2 separate regions of the Homo sapiens genome follow, and region 2 is linked to region 1. A link means that fine-mapping ties the variant in region 1 to the expression of a gene that starts in the linked region. Tissue or cell type: whole blood. Region 1 holds a variant in brackets; the other region holds the start of a gene. All regions are shown on one strand. Distances are between the middles of the regions.

Region 1 (8,109 bases):
GAGAATCACTTGAACCAGGGAGGCGGAGTTTGCCGTGAGCCAAGATCATGCCATCGCACTCCAGCCTGGGCAACAGAGCAAGATTTCGTCTCAAAAAAAAAGGTAATAATAATGAATACATGAATATGTAACACCTGGATTAAAGTAGACTCTCAATAAATGGTAGCAATAATAATTATTGTTGATTTTGTGAAAAGAGTTGATACACTTTAAATGCTTGGAATAGTATACTCAGTAGGTGTTCATTGTTATTGAATACTGTTATCAAAGGGAATCCAGATGCCTTATCAATTTGGGATCTTCAGGCTTTATCCCAGTAATGCTATGGATTTGGCTAATGTGTTTGATTAAGGCAGAAAGGCTGGTATCTTCAGAAAAATTTTATGTGATTTAGCAGGTTAAATTCAACCTATGAAGGGAAGTAAAATTATAAGATCTGAGTCTTAGAAAGAGCAAGACTGTAGTTTAGAGAACGGATTGGAAGAAGATGAACTTGGAAGCCACAGCACCACCACAGCAGGATTCTAGATTTGAACTAAAGCAGAGGCTATAGGAAGAGAAGTAGACTGATCAGAGACTAGCTTTGGAGATAGAAGCTACTCTTCTTGTGGCAGATGAAGAGGAAGGAGTCACAGATGATCTTGAGATTTCTGTCTTGGGGTAACCGGGTGGATATTGATTTCATTTACTGAGAGGAGGAACAGTTTTGGAAAATAACATGATTCGTTTAGAATTTATTTTAAATTGGAACCTTGCGTGGTCAGTTTATTCAACCAGAAACAAAGACATTTCTTTACTGTTAGCTATTTTTGTCATGTATTTTAAAACTATGCCATAATTTAACCAACATATATCACTAAGAATAAATGCATAGGTAGAAAATAACCACAATCAGAGTCTTCTGTCATGATACCAAAATATAAAGTGGCTGGGGCCACAGTTATGTAACACTTAGAAATCATGACTAACAAAATAGAATATTGACATATGATTCAAAGACTTACAATTACAGATTAATTAAACTACACCAGATTCAGATAAATGAAAGTAATGTCTGATTCTCCATCTTCATTTATTTAAATGTATTTCAGGCCGGGCTTGGTGGCTCATGCCTGTAATCCCAGCACTCTGAGAGGCTGAAGCAGGTAGATCACCTGAGGTCAGGAGTTCAAGACCAGCTTAGCCAACATGGTGAAACCCTGCCTCTACTAAAAATACAAAATTGGCTGGGCATGGTGGTGCATACCTGTAATCCCAGCTACTTGGGAGACTGAGGCACGAGAACCGCTTGAACCCAGGAGGTGGAGGCTGCAGTGAGCCAAGATCATGCCATTGCACTCCAGCCTGGGTAACTGAGCAACACTCTGTCTGAAAAAAGTAATAATAATAAATAAATATATTTCAGAGACACAACAACAAACTATGTTAAGGAAAAGAGCACCCTAAAAGAAAAAGGAAGGTCAAAAAAAGTAAGCTGTAACAATATTTTTGTAAGTGATAATTGGGAAAAATACTTAAAAGCCTACTATTTTACCGGTAAAATGGAATAGTGATATACGATTAATTTATAAAACAAATGATGCAATATGGGCCAATCGTATATGCAAAGCAAATATTCATCATAAAAGAATATGACTAGAAGCTACTTTTCATGGCGCTATTTTCATTTTCATGTTTTCAGTAGAATTTTAAAAATCCCTTTTCAGTAATAGAAGTGATACTCTAACATAAAGCCATAAATGCACTCCCAACATTGAATTCTAGTTATCTGCTTCTGTGTTTTTCCCTCCCTGCACTGTGAGCTACAGAACATAGAGAAGACCATATCCTACTCAACCTCATATCTCAGGTGCTAAGCACTGTGCCTGACCGAAGGAGCACTCGATGGATGTTTATCTAATAAAGTAAGAAAGGAAGAACAGCACACATCCAAAAATATTAAGCTGTTTCTATCTTCCTTGACAAAACAACCTTATGGCCAGGTGCGGTGACTCACGCCTGTAATCCCAGCACTTTGGGAGGCTGAGGCATGTGGATCACTTGAGGCCAGGAGTTCAAGACCAGCCTGGCCAACATGGTGAAACCCCAACTCTACTTTAAAAAAAAAAAAAGGAGCCAGGTGTAGTGGCACATGGCTATAATCCCAGCTACTCAGGAGGCTGAGGCAGGAGAACTGCTTGAACCTGGGAGGCAGAGGTTGCAATGAGCCAAGATCGCACCACTGCACTCTACTATGGGCAACAGAGTGAGACTCTGTCTCAAAAAAAAAAAAAAAAAAAAAAAACTGGGCGCAGTGGCTCAGGCCTGTAATTCCAGCACTTTGGGAGGCTGAGGCGGGTGGATCACTTGAGCCCAGAAGTTCAAAGCCAGCCTGGGCAACAAGGTAAAACCCAATCTCTCGGCTGGGCACGGTGGCTCACGCCTGTAATCCCAGCACTTTGGGAGGCCGAGGCGGGCGGATCACGAGGTCAGGAGATCGAGACCATCCCGGCTAAAACGGTGAAACCCCGTCTCTACTAAAAATACAAAAAATTAGCCGGGCGTAGTGGCGGGCGCCTGTAGTCCCAGCTACTTGGGAGGCTGAGGCAGGAGAATGGCGTGAACCCGGGAGGCGGAGCTTGCAGTGAGCCGAGATCGTGCCACTGTACTCCAGCCTGGGAGACAGAGCGAGACTCCGTCTCAAAAAAAAAAAAAAAAAAAACCCAATCTCTACCAAAAATACAAAAAACTAGCAGGGCATGGTGGCTCACTCCTGTGGTCCCAGCTACTGGGGGTAGGTGGGAGACTGAGGTGTGAGGATCACTTGAGCCCGGAGGTGGAGGTTTCAGTGAGCTGAGATCATGCCACTGCACTCCAGCATAGGTGACAGAGCAAGAGACTCTGTCTCAAAAAACAAAAAGAAAAAAGGAGAGAGGACCGGAATTGGAAAACTAAGCCTGTGGTTTAAAGGTAAGGGACATTGCTAAATAATGTAAGACCCAGTTCTTGCAGGGCATTAAATTATTCTCTGTAAAAAGAGCTTACAGCCTTAGAGAAAAAAATTCATGAACTATAGCTCTGGAACTATGAGTCCAGGACCCAGGAAGCCTGGTCTTTAGTCCAAGCTCAGTAGTTAACCTGTGTGATTCAGACAGTTGCTCAATCTCCCCGAGCTTCAACTTGACCTAACGATGATTTCTGTCATCTCCCCTCCACTTGCGCAGTCTATTCCTGCAGTGATGGTGTCATACCAGCCCATGGAACAGTGCCCATCAAACAAGGTACTTGTCAGTATTTACGTTTTTTTCCAGTGGTTAGTCATTTAAAGAATTATTTTGCATTACTAAAGCATGGATGCATGTATACTAATCCCTGGAACAAAAATGAGCATTTACTAAGTACCAAGCAGTCTGCTTAGCACTTTGCAGGTTTAAACTTCACAACTGGAAGTGGGCCAGAGGAGTTGAGTACCTTTCCCAAAGTCACACAGCTTGTGGATTATTAATTTGGGACTCTGAACTCAGGCTTTTCTGCCTGCAAAGGCCATGTTCTGAACCACTAGGCTGCATTGGAACAGAATACAGAACTTGCATAAAACATAAGAATTCTAAGAATTTTGTGGAAATGTTTAAGAAATCCTGACAGAATGGGATCTTTTATAAATTCACATTTCTCATTCCATCCATCCTGAATAGTGAAATCACTGATTTGGCTTTTCTCAATCTGTAACATCCCAAATCCCAATAAGTATTGCCTTGTTCATCAACACAAAGTTTGCACATACTTCGTGCAAAATTTAGTTCTGTTACTAAATCGAACTCATGAGAAGTTTTAATCCAGAATCTCAAAGTTCCTAATATGTTATCAGAGAAGATTTCGTACCCTAATAGAAACAAATTATTCATTATTCATATGTGCTTGAAAGTACTAATTGTGAGTGCTTTGAAGAGAAATTATCAAAAATATGTGGACTGTTTAAGTCAGACAACCAAAGAAAAAAACATAGTTTTGTGATTTGCCAAATTTGGCCCATTCGTTTAAGGCAGCCCAGGAATAGATTTAAACACATACACACACGAGCCAGCTGAAATTAATGTATATATATGTATATATTTAATGGGCTGATTTCTGGCCCTCTTATAGGATTCCCAAGAAGATAAGAAAAATAATTGCGTTCCTTAAGATAGAAAATGTGGATAAAATGGTAATGGCTTGCATAAAGCAAAGTTTAAATTTCTCTGTGGCTATAACTACTAATGAGCTGCTAATAGTAAAGGATATCTGTGTGTGAAAGCACATTCACAGGGTAAAACATTATATGTGCATAAGTTGTCATTACTGTTTAAGAAAAAGCCAAGTTTGGTGGGTAAAAAATAAAAGATGGCTCACTGAGCTTTGAAACATGAGATAGGGCCAGAATAGCAATAGTAGCTGTCTACATAGAGCATAATAAGTTCTTGAAAGCAAGAAAATCAGTTGAAAATCTGTTGATCTCAACTTTATTTTAAGTTTAAAGAGTATAAGTGTGATTATCATTTGCATTATTACAGCTCTTCTGTTCTCTGGTCTTGGGATGATTACAGAGATTGTCCTTTTATTCTCACAGTGCACAGACTAGCTGAAATCTACAGAACTAGAAAGATTTGCAATTCATTTATAGAATTGCTAGAACTAAATAATGGCAGATTTTTCAAAGTTATGTAATAGACTACTCTGGATTATAAAATACTAAAGCTATCAGTTGGGTTCTGCCTTGATTCTATTAAATTTCCCGGTAATGACTGTACTAAAACTCATGGGGAACTGCAAGATAACTTTATTGATGGCCATAGAGGATGAAAACAATGCATAAGGTATGGAATTAATTTTAAGCCACACACTGAATAGACAGTGATGTAAAGTAAAATGATATTTTTCAAGGAAAGACAATTATGTCACATTATAATCCAGTTTACATAAATAGCATACTATTAAAAAAA[G/C]CTAAGTCTTCAGAGCATGTAATTCAGGACTGTTGTGAAACCTCTTACTCTTGTTGGTTAGTTATTTTGTGCTGTAAGGGAGGGAAAATGGCTTCCTCCCTACTTCTAGGTTCTTTGGCTGGGATACAAATTAAATTGACATAAAACAGATTAACAGGAGAAAAAAACATTTTTGGCCAGGCTCGGTGGCTCATGCCTGTGATCCCAGCACTTTGGGAAGCTGAGGTGGGAGGATCACTTGAGCCCACGAGTTCAAGACCAGCCTGGGCAACATATTGAGACCAAATCTCAATTCAAAAAAAAAGAAAAGAAAAGGAAAAAACATTTTTAATTATATGCACACACACTGGAATCCCCCAGGTAATAAAAGTTGTCTGAGAGCAGGACTCTTCCTGATACAGATACTTTGACTAATGTAGATTTCTTTTATAAATATAAATTTATTTTACAAAAGGACAGCTTTTCAGAGATACTCTTGTGTCTGCAGTTGCTCAGAATAATCAGCTCGAAATATGCCAAATAACTATATTTTGGGGTGGCATATTTTTTATTTTTGAGATGGAGTCTCGCTGTTGCCCAGGCTGAGGTGCAGTGGCGCAATCTCGGCTTGCTGCAACCTACGCCTCCTGGGTTGAAGCGATTCTCCTGCCTCAGCCTCCCAAGGACCTGGGATTACGGGAACCTGGGGGTGGTATATTCTGATCTTCTGTAGTCATGCACTGGGACCTTCTGTAGTCATGCATTTTCTCTCTCTCTTTTTTTTCTGATTCATTATTTCCTTTTCTTTTTCATCTTGGTATTTGTAGGGAAAGTGATATTCCTCTCCCCGAAATCATATTATTCCAGACAAAAGAAAACAAATGCCTACACTTATCTAATCAATCAGAAGACCATCTCCCCCACCCTTTTTTTTTTTTTAAAGATGGAGTCTTGCTCTTGTCACCCTGACTGGAGTGCAATGGGACGATTTTGGCTCACTGCAACCTCCGCCTCCTGGGTTCAAGCGATTCTCCTGCCTCAGCCCCCCGAGTAGCTGGGATTACAGGGGCCCACCACCACGCCCAGCTAATTTTTGTATTTTCAGTAGAGACGGAGTTGCACCATGTTGGCCAGGCTGGTCTCGAACTCCTGACCTCAGGTGATCCACCCGCCTCGGCCTCCCAAAGTGCTGGGATTACAGGCATGAGCCACAGCGCCAGACGAACCATCTCCCTTTTAAGCACGCTGTCCCCTTGAGTTACCTGCTGGTTTCAAGTGGAACACTAAGGGAGGAAGCAGAAAGTTCTTATCTTGCTCTGCCACATACTGGATCTAGCTGAGGCTGGGGCTCAGGCCTGTGGTTTCCTGTAGTGTGGACTGAGCCATTTTTCCATCAAGACGTCAGTGGAGAGATGAAGTGAAAGGATTTAAAAGCGGTTTGTGGCCTGCCATGGTGGCTCACCCCTATAATCCCAGCACTTTGGGAGGCCAAGGCGGGTGGATCACCTGAGGTAAGGAGTTCGAGACCAGACTGGCCAACATGGTGAAACACCATCTCTACTAAAAATACAAAATCAGCCGGGTGTGGTGGTGGGTGCATGTAGTCACAGCTACTCGGAGCCTGAAGCAGGAGAATCGCTTGAACCTGGGAGGCAGAGGTTGCAATGAGCCGAGACCATGCCACTGCACTCCAGCCTGGGCAACAAGACCAAAACTCCGTCTCAAAAAAAATAAATAAATAAAAATAAAAGCGGTTTGTAAACTGTAACACCTTGCACAGAAACACAAGATTACTACTATTAAATATTATTTAGAAAAGTAGAGTTCTTCTTACCATTTCCCTGTTTCTTTCTTCTCACTTCCTCCTTTCCCCTTCTGACCATCTTTTCAGCCGTGAACATACCACACCAGCAAGAACAATAAGAGCCAAGGGTCTGAATTGTTTAATCAAAGGAAGAGTCAAAATAAGCTACACCCAGATTACTGAGAAAGGTGAAATGAAAACAAGCTCAAAACCAAATTCCAGGAAGATGCTGTCTTTGTATTGACTTACCATTTCATGTTTTCACACATGTCAAAGTCTTGAAGCTTCGGTCATTAGTCTTCCGCTTCCTAAAGCAAGAAACTAAATGCTGACTTGTGTCGTTTGCCCCAGATGCCACCGGAAATGTCATCTTCTCCCCAGACGCTGGCTTGCAAGCACAGCAGCACCCAGAGGCTAACCTATTTCCCCTATAGCCCAAGCTCTGAGATCTCCCGTCTGGTCACAATGATCTACAGGAGAGGAAGAAAGCTATCTAGGGACGAGATCTAGAATCAACTGAGAGAGATGCTTAAAAATCACCAGTTACTTTAATGAGTAAGTACTTTTCAGTTTTTCCATTTTATCTGAAACTTTAAGTTGGCATTTCTGACCAGCCTTTCTTGAGACCATCATTTTTTGGGCACTTACTGTAGACAGGAATCAGCACCCTAGCCTCCTTCAGCCCACCCCATGTAACACTAAAGAGACAACTGGTGCTTGGCAATAACAAAAATATTAGTGATTGATAAACTTGTAAATTTATTAAAATGGACAGTGAAAGAAAACAGCCAATTTAGTTGTGAACTGGAGAAGGGACGTGAGGCATCTGTTGTCTGCAATCTTGTATGTTGTGGTTGACCACAAAGGCTTGGCATCAGGTTTTACTTCCAGCACTACTTCTTATAAAATGGATGACCTTGGGCAGATTACTCAATCTTTTAGCCTTAATTTTTAAAAGTATAAAATGGAGAAAATTAGAATATGTAGTCCAGGTGCGGTGGCCCACACCCGTAATCCAAGCACTTTGGAAGGCTGAGGCAGGTGGATTATTTGAGTCTAAGTTCAAGACCAGCCTGGACAACATGATGAAACCCTGTCTCTAAAAAAAACTATAAAAATTAGCCAGGCATGGTGGCACAGGCCTGTAGTCCCAGCTACTAGGGAGGCTGAAGTGGGAGGATTGATTGAGCCTGCAGAGTTGCTGCAGTGAGCCATGATTTCGCCACTGAATTCCAACTTGGGCAACAGAGTGAGACAAGAAAGAAACAGAGAGAGAGAGAGAGACAGAGAAAGAAGAAAAAAAAAGAAAGAAAGAAAGAAAGAAAAAGAAAGAAAGAGAAAGAAAGAAAGAAAGAAAGAAAGAAAGAA
Region 2 (8,109 bases), 130 kb before region 1:
GGGTGAGGTTGGTGTTTAAGGGGCAGGGACAGTAATTTTTAACACCATCCAATAGGGACTTTTCAATGCTACCGAGCAGCGGATCTACATACTGTTCCCTAAAAGGACACCTCCTGGCTACTTGTTCCTTAACTTCCCGCTGCCCAGTCTGCCACTGAAAGCCCCACATGGCACTTAGGGAGCTCTCACCATGCATCCCTGATTATCGTTATTACTATTACTATTCTGATTTGTTCACAGAAAACCATTACTACCAGTCAGTGGTTGATCTTCTATCCTTATCTACTTATCTGCAATATTTTTCACTGTTGCCCACTCCCATTCTTTAAAAATTATCTTCTTTCTTAGCCCCAGGACAATCAATCTTTGATTCTCCTTTGCAATGTTTTGATCACTTTTTTATGCCCATCCCTTAAAAAGGAGTCATTTCTTTGGACCTCCAATCTTCACCAGGGAGAATGCTAAACCCCAGCTCTCCTTCTTTCCCTGCCACTGTTTGACCTTACACAGGTCGTATTCTCTCTGGGCCTCATTTGTCCCTGAGAAAAGAGAAGGAGCTGGAGTGATGATGTGGAACATCTCTTCAAGCTGTACACTGCTATGCTAGTCATCTTAATCCCATTCCTGTATTCCTTCAGTATGTGGTAGAGTTTCAGAAAGCAAGTATAGGTCTGTGATGATGCTAATACCACCAAGAAATCATTCATTCCAGTATGGGGAGAAACCTTAAACACCATCTGGTCTGAAACCTTTGTTTTACAGATGAGGGAACCTAGGTTCAGAGAGGGTACTTGATTGCCTCAAAGCAGAGACAGGATAATAAGGAGGTCTCCTGGGCTCTCACTTGTTGCAAAATAAATTTGAGTGTTTTCTGGATCTGGCTAAAGTGCACAATGATATCAGAGTAAAACGTCATACGGAAGGTATAAATTGATCTAGAACACATTAAAGCCTTCCCCTCCCCCTTTAAAAAAATCAACTTTAAGAATTTTGGAGAGAGATTTGCTATCAGTGGTGCTTTATACAAAATAGCATAATCTGATAACATAAGACATTTTAGATTTATGTTTTTAAATAGCCAAATAAAACAAAATATCAAGTCACAGATTACATATATTTACATTAATTCAAATGTCCAAAGCACAGTACAGTAGGGTCTATTTAATAGTTCACATAATTTAAGATTTACATATACACAAGCACATGAACCAATATTAGTTTGCTAGAACAGGGATTTAAGAAGTTACTCAGACATTTTGGTATTGACACTTACATATTTATGGCAACAAATTATGATGACTTTAAATTTTCAATGAGATCTTTTGTACAAGAATACAGAATGGGAAGAATGTACAAAATGAAAAGACAGGCAAACAAATGTACTTTCCTTGCACTATTTCTATAACACCATATAGGATGTGGCATTATCCAGTACATTTTATCAGTGTAGTCTATTCATTCTGGTCTAAAACGGTAATTTTGGCTGAATAACCCCCAAATCTAACTTTGCTTTAGGCTTTATAATTAATTGATGCTTGATTCTTCTTTCTACATCTTTTAAAAATGAAATTGGACACTAGTGTTTTTCTTTAAAATAACTCTGGTACTAGTAAGTTAGCAAAGTCTATTTTTAAAGGACACTAATACATAAAGTTTATTTTTTCTTTCAATATCCTAAATAAAGGGACAATGGGAGTCATATCACCTTTGGGCCTACTCTGAAATTACCAATAGTGCTAAAAGCTAAGATATTGTGATCTAGAACTTAAACTTTGGAAAACAACCCCATCTTTCTATGGCACATTGAGGAACTGAAGTACTTTACCTCATTTCCTACCAATCATTTTAAGAGAATTTGGTTGTATTTCAAAGAACAAAACAACACAATTTCTGTCCTGCTGTTTATTTTGCAGACCACACACAAAGTTAAATATGAACAGATTAAATTATGACATCATACAAATATAGGCACAAATTAAGTGGACGCCACAAAAGGTGTGTCAGAAAACACTGAATTGACTGAATCTGAGTCAGATTTCCCCCTCGTGGACTTTAGGATGCCCTCAGCTATCACTGCCTCGCTGGGAAAGAGCCTGACTTTCCCGTTCTGCCCTGCTGCAGTATCCTTCAGGGGTTCCAAAAACACCACTCTTTTACCTGCACCTGCCTTCCGTTCATCAGCGGAGGCATCACTAGCGGGGCCAGGACTGAGAATCGATGAATGGGCATTGCTTTGGTGTAGCATATTTTTCTGTCTCTTGGTTTTACACTTGCAGGGGCATGGAGTCAGATAGAGGTACAAAAGTACCAAAACGATACTGGCCACGCAAGCAGCAAGAGTGGTAAAAGCTGTGTTAAATGCCTCATGAGCATGGGATCTGCTTACAGTGAAATTGCTCACATTTATTGTGACGTCCACAGTTTCATTTAACAGGCGTTGCTTATTCATTGCGATACAAGAATACACTCCAGCATCCTCAAAACGAGGGCTTTCTATAACCAGACTTCCATTGTGAAACACGTAAAAGTTTTCCATCTCTTTATCCGGCTCTAGCAGTCTGTTATCTGGACCCACCCAGATGAAATCCGTATTTGCATTACCTGTCTTGCTGTCACAGTGGACCATCAGTCTTTCCCCGACCTGAGCCTCATGAATAAAGCCAAGCGCACGAAAGGAACCATTGATGATGCTGTCAGAGCAATTCATAAAGCTATCCTGGAGCAGAAGTACCTGACGCGAGTGCCTGGAGTCAGACCACAGGCGACAGGTGTAATCGTTCTTAAAATCCATCACTGAGCTAAAGTGCCTACGATACCAAAAGACCAGCAAGGAGTACAGGGAACAGTCACAGACAAATGGGTTTCCATGAAGGTAGATGCCTCTCAGCTGTTTTCCTGGCACTAAATTTATGTGGTGCATTGGCATGGAAGGAATTCGGTTATAAGAAACATCTAAAAACATCAGTTCTGCCAGCTTGAACCTTCCAACATACAAATCCATCGGAAACTGTGTGAGAAAATTTCCACTTAAGTAGAGTTTCTGCAACTGGGAGAGCCCTCCAAACGCTGAAGGATCGAGATAGGATATGTGATTGTTGTAAAGCAGAAGCACTTCCAGAACCTTCAACTCTTGGAATACAGCATTTTTCACCGTCTTCAGCTTATTGGACGATAAGTCAAGACACTTCAAATTTGGAGTTGTGGAAAAACTGCCCGTGGAAATGCTGGTGATGTTGTTATGACGAAGAATTAGGGTGTTCAGCTTTGCAAACGATACTGGAATCCACTCAGAATCCAGAAGCCCAATTCTGTTATAACTCAGGTCCAGTCTCTTAATCAGTCTGAAAAGGTTCCCAGGCACCTTGGACAGGTTTTTGTTGGTGCAGCTGACGATGTCAGTGGCACAGATGCAAGCGGTGGGGCACACCCCAGAGGCACCAGGGCCCACAGTCACTGTGATCATCAGCAAACACAGCAGCTCCCTGCAGCCCGGTCTGACGACGGCTCCAAGCAGGGTGGGCAGAGTGTGTACACGTAACGACATTATGGTCGCCTCTGAGTCTCTTCCCGGTGTCTTTTCCACCGGCTCAGCCTCCCACCAGTGAACCTGGCAAACAATTAATAATTCAGAGGGAGTAAAAAGCAGAAACTGACTACCACTAGTTAACCCATAAGAGCCATACCTTACTTTCTTTCCAATAACTTTTGAAATGGGTTTTATTTCACAATAGGGAGCTCTGTGTTGCCTCTTCACTGTTAAATGTATTTTTTCCTCTTTCCTGGGTTAGTCCTGCTTATAAAAATGTACAGTCACATTCTCTCCATACAACCCACCGTCTCACCCACCATCAGAAACTCAATTTTTTCCTAAGGTGCATCCTGCGTTGTTGTTGTTGTTGTTGTTGTTTTAAACTCCCTCCAACAGACACAACTATACGCAAACGTACGCTACAAACAATTAAACGGAAATACTTAGCAACCACCCATCCAGGAAAAAACTCACGGTGCTGGGGAGCCTCGTGGGCTCCGGGGAGGCTGCCTACGCAGTGCCTTCCGAAGGTCTGCGCGTCCGTCTGTCCGTGTCTGTCACTCTTGCACCTTCCGACTTCCTTTCCCTCCGGCTCCCGGCGGGCGGCACCCTCTAGCCGGCTCTCAACTTTGAGGAGTTTCAAGCAGCCGCGGCGGCAGCAGCAGCCCTGGACGCAGCAGCCAAGCTCTTCGCTGGCTCCCGGGGGCTCTCCCGGGTTCCTCTCATTGCAGGCTGAAGGTACCGCCTCGGCGCTCTGGCCGCCGTGTGCCCGCGCGCGGGGCGCCCCGCTCCCAGAGCCGGGGCCGCGGGAGGGGGCGCAGGCAGCCGGGCGGCAGCGGGCGGCCCCGCCTCTCCGCACTCGGGAGGCTGCAGGACCCGGGGTTCCCGCGCGCCCGGGGCCGGGAGACGGGCTGGGGCGCCGGTCCCACCCCTGCGCGTCCTGCCTCCTGCGGGCAGCAGCTCGGAGCCTGCGGGAGGGAGCAGGCTGGGCGCGTGGTGGGGGGCGCGCGATGCGGAGGGGGCGGCGGCGCAGCCAATCCGAGAGGCGGCCGGCGCCCCCTCATACCGCCCCGCGGCCTCGCCGCCTCCTCCCGCTTTCCTCCTCCAGCTCCCACCCGGACCTCTAGAACGGCCGCGCAGAGCGGGGAGGGGGCAGGGGTCCACACCAGAGGCCCAGACTCTGGTCCTTGAGTCAAGATGCCCAACCCACTCGCCTACCAATTACGTCCCTTCGTCCAGCTCCAAGCCGGGCGGTAATGGGGTCCAGGAAGGCTAAAGGGGACACGCCCAGCCACCGAGGGAGGGGTCTCACCCTTGGAGACCCACTTCGCGGCGGCCGCACAGGTCACGTCTCTCTCCCCACCCAGGCCAAGGAATCCCCGGACCTCTTAGAGCTTTGCTTTGGGGCAAGGGCCAAGGAGGCTTTGCCTGCGCCAAGTGCAGTTGACTGTCTGGGTTTACAAAATAAACCCAGAAGCAGCCTGACGTCTCCGCTCGTTTCTAGGGAGGAGGTCGCGGGGAGGGAAGTCGGGAACGTTTCCTCTCCACAGGGATATCTGCTGGGAGGAAGTAACCGGGAAATCGCCACGGGGACACCCCTCACCTCCCTGGGAAAGTTCTATCCCTTTCCTGACTCAGGAGGCGGCAACAGGGATGGTGTCCAATTCAAGAAGGAGGAGGGCAGGAAAGAAGGCTTGGAGCCGACCTTCCGGCTGGAATGCAAAGATAAGAGTATTAACCCAAATAATAATAATAATCCCAGAGCAGACCTTTTTTTCTTTTTTCTCTCTTCTCCTTCCCCTCTTCTCTCTCCCTCTCTCTCTCCCTCTCTCTCCTTTCTCTTTCGTTCTCTCTCTCTCATTTCCTCTGTCTCTGTCCCCGCCACCTCCCCGTCTTTTGCAAGCGTGCTCGTGGCGCGTGCGGGACAGGGAAGTAAGGGGCGTGTGCGCGGAGGCTCTTCATCCCTTCCGGAGATGCCGCGGCCGACCAGCGCGCTTTGGTTCAGCAAGCACAGAAGGTGCAAGCCGAACAAGGCCATTCAGAAATGAGGTGGAGACTATGAGGCTGATGAGCTCTACGATTAAAAATCCATTTTTGTTTAATTCCAAGATAAGTTTTAACGATGGGATTTGAGTGAGTCAGATCGCCCATTTGGCCATTATATCCGGATTAAAAGAAATAAATTACTGCCTTGACAAAAGATGCCAACCACAGTGGAATGAAAAGCAACCAAATTGAGGAAACAGTTGGGGCAGGATAGATAACTTGTAATATTACTTAAAAATAAAAATGATGAGGACAACCAACTCTTCCTCCCCTCCCCCGCGCACCTTTTCACTTGAGCAATCTTGAATTTAGTGAAAGTTGTTTCCTACATGGTCCGTGAGTCATTGCTGTGGTCAGGCAGATTTGTTAGACCAACACCTAATTTAAATAGAATTGTTTGTGGAATAAAGCCGGGCTAGCACTAATAAATCTAGGCATTTTCAGATGAGGACAACTTGATTCAGATTAATTTATTTCATGAAAGTTGAATTTTATCATAAGAACACAGCCTAAAATGCTTCATGCAAGCATTTCTTACTGTGTACTTAAAGGGGAGAGGCAGAAGTTGAGATTTTCTAGTATTAGGCCACACTTCCTGGGATTCTCAAAAGCTTGGTCTCCAGGACTTCAATTTTATAGAGTTAGAATAGTTAATACAGAGGAATAGAATTAAAATCGCTCAGAGGAATATTTTTTAAATGACTAATAAATGACCAGGTTTTTGCAGGATTTTACTAATTAACATCGTATTTTAAGGAAACCATGAAGGCAGAAGAAAGACCTGTATTTAATGCAAAAATAGTCTAAAAAGAATAAGTGATTCAAAAAAATGGAAACAGGAAGGTTATATTATTATAACTACAGGCATATTGTAGAAACATTATGCAGAGATTACACAGCAAAAGTAAACTAAATGCACTCAAAATCCATAGACAAGGCTATTTATCCATTTGAAGACCTGATTTGGGGGATTTCACATGTTTGTGAAAGGGAAGAACGTTGTAAAAGGATTGAGTTTACTAGCTGGGAGGAAAGAAAGATAAGAGTTGATCTTAAGGTATAAGACGTGACCTTATTTTGTGGAGGATAACATTTTTATCTTTCTAGCATCCCTTCTCCTTCTAACAGATTCCCTCTTTCCACTAGAAGGTAAATTCCAAGAGGATAGCAGTTTTATCTGTTTTGTGTATTGCTGTATTCTCAGCTCTCAGAACCCTGCTTAACACATTCAATAAATTTTTGATAAATGAACTGATGAACAGGGAACCTATTCAAAGTGGTTAAGATAACGGTTTACCCCAACTGAATCTGCTGGTTGCTGTCCTGCCTTTTATGCTTTGAAAGCTTGTCTTAAAAAAAAGGAGAAGAAAGAGAAAGAGGAGTCCTGTAAATGTTATTTGAGTCCTGGATCTGGTAGTACCTGAAGGCCACTGCATACTTTTACTTCCTTTTTAATTATATTTTCCACCCCACCCCCTTTTTTAGCTTAAATTATTTTGAGTTGCATGTCACTTGTGACGGACAGAGTACTAACACATGTAATGATGGTGATAATAAATATGTACTGAGCCTTTATTATATGCCAGACACTGAGCTATGCGTTTTACATGCATTATTTCATTTATTGCTCACCACAGCCCTGTGACATTATATAATCCTATAACCCAGATGGTAAACAACTGTGTTCCAAATTATTTGAAAATGAAATGGGATGCAATTATCTCAAGGTTCTATTTGAAGGATTTAGATTAAACAGAAGAGAGACGTTTCTGCCAGGGTGGTTCCAACCTGGAATGGGTTGCCAAGACAGATGGTTGAGTTGCCTTCTCAGGAGTTTAAAATAGGATGCGATAGATATTCCTCTGGCCTCTTCCACATGACATAATACATTGGAATTTTTGACCATTCAGTAATGACTCCAAGGGATAGTAGAATGTGGCTTGACACTTGACATAATTCTGAATCTAGTATGCTGAGAAGGGGGTGTGGTCATGTGAGTGTCTAGCTGGGTTTGGAAATACTATCTGCCTGAGGCAGTAATTTGAGGTGATGAAATCACAGGAGTTCTAGCCCTGTAATTTCCACAATTTCTCAGGTTGTAATCAAAGATTTAAGTAATTAGAGATATGAGACAAGAAATTAATAGCACATGTTTGATGATTCTAAGTCATTTTTACTAATAATTAACACTTCAATAGCACTTTATGTCCTAAGAAGGGCTTTCACATTCTTTATCTCCTTTGACTCTACCACGCGTCCTGTAGTCAGGTGGAATTTATACACTGGCAGATATCTTGTTGCCTCTTTTTTCGGCGTGAGGCACACTGGGTGTTCTTTGGAGATGGAGCTCACTGGGGTCACTGATTGCTGCATGCAGGAGCTTCCTGTGGAGTTTCATCACTCTGGCGGGCAGCACTCTTAATAGGATTTTTACAGTGTAACTTAGCTTGAACCCACAAGAAAAACATACCTTTGCCCAACAACTATGGAAGTGCACTCAGCTCCTACAGCATCCTGTTCTTCTCTTGGCCTGC

The links. PIP is the estimated chance that this variant, and not a neighbour inherited with it, causes the effect.
Region 2: PCED1B starts here. The variant in region 1 is fine-mapped to the expression of PCED1B in whole blood (INTERVAL, PIP above 0.99).

Annotation. Positions count from the first base shown.
Region 1 is chr12:47,209,394-47,217,502 of GRCh38, forward strand. PCED1B (PC-esterase domain containing 1B) reads left to right here. Exons shown (of 4, transcript NM_138371.3): 3 at 6,829-7,296. It overlaps PCED1B-AS1 (PCED1B antisense RNA 1), which reads right to left and starts at 7,050. Exons shown (of 3, transcript NR_026544.1): 1 at 6,991-7,050; 2 at 6,772-6,871; 3 at 1-1,368. The variant G/C (reference allele first, on the strand shown) is at 4,959.
Region 2 is chr12:47,075,459-47,083,567 of GRCh38, forward strand. PCED1B (PC-esterase domain containing 1B) reads left to right here and starts at 4,163. Exons shown (of 4, transcript NM_138371.3): 1 at 4,163-4,267. It overlaps AMIGO2 (adhesion molecule with Ig like domain 2), which reads right to left and starts at 4,501. Exons shown (of 3, transcript NM_001370299.1): 1 at 4,004-4,501; 2 at 3,684-3,790; 3 at 989-3,607. The coding sequence starts at 3,544. The coding sequence ends at 1,976.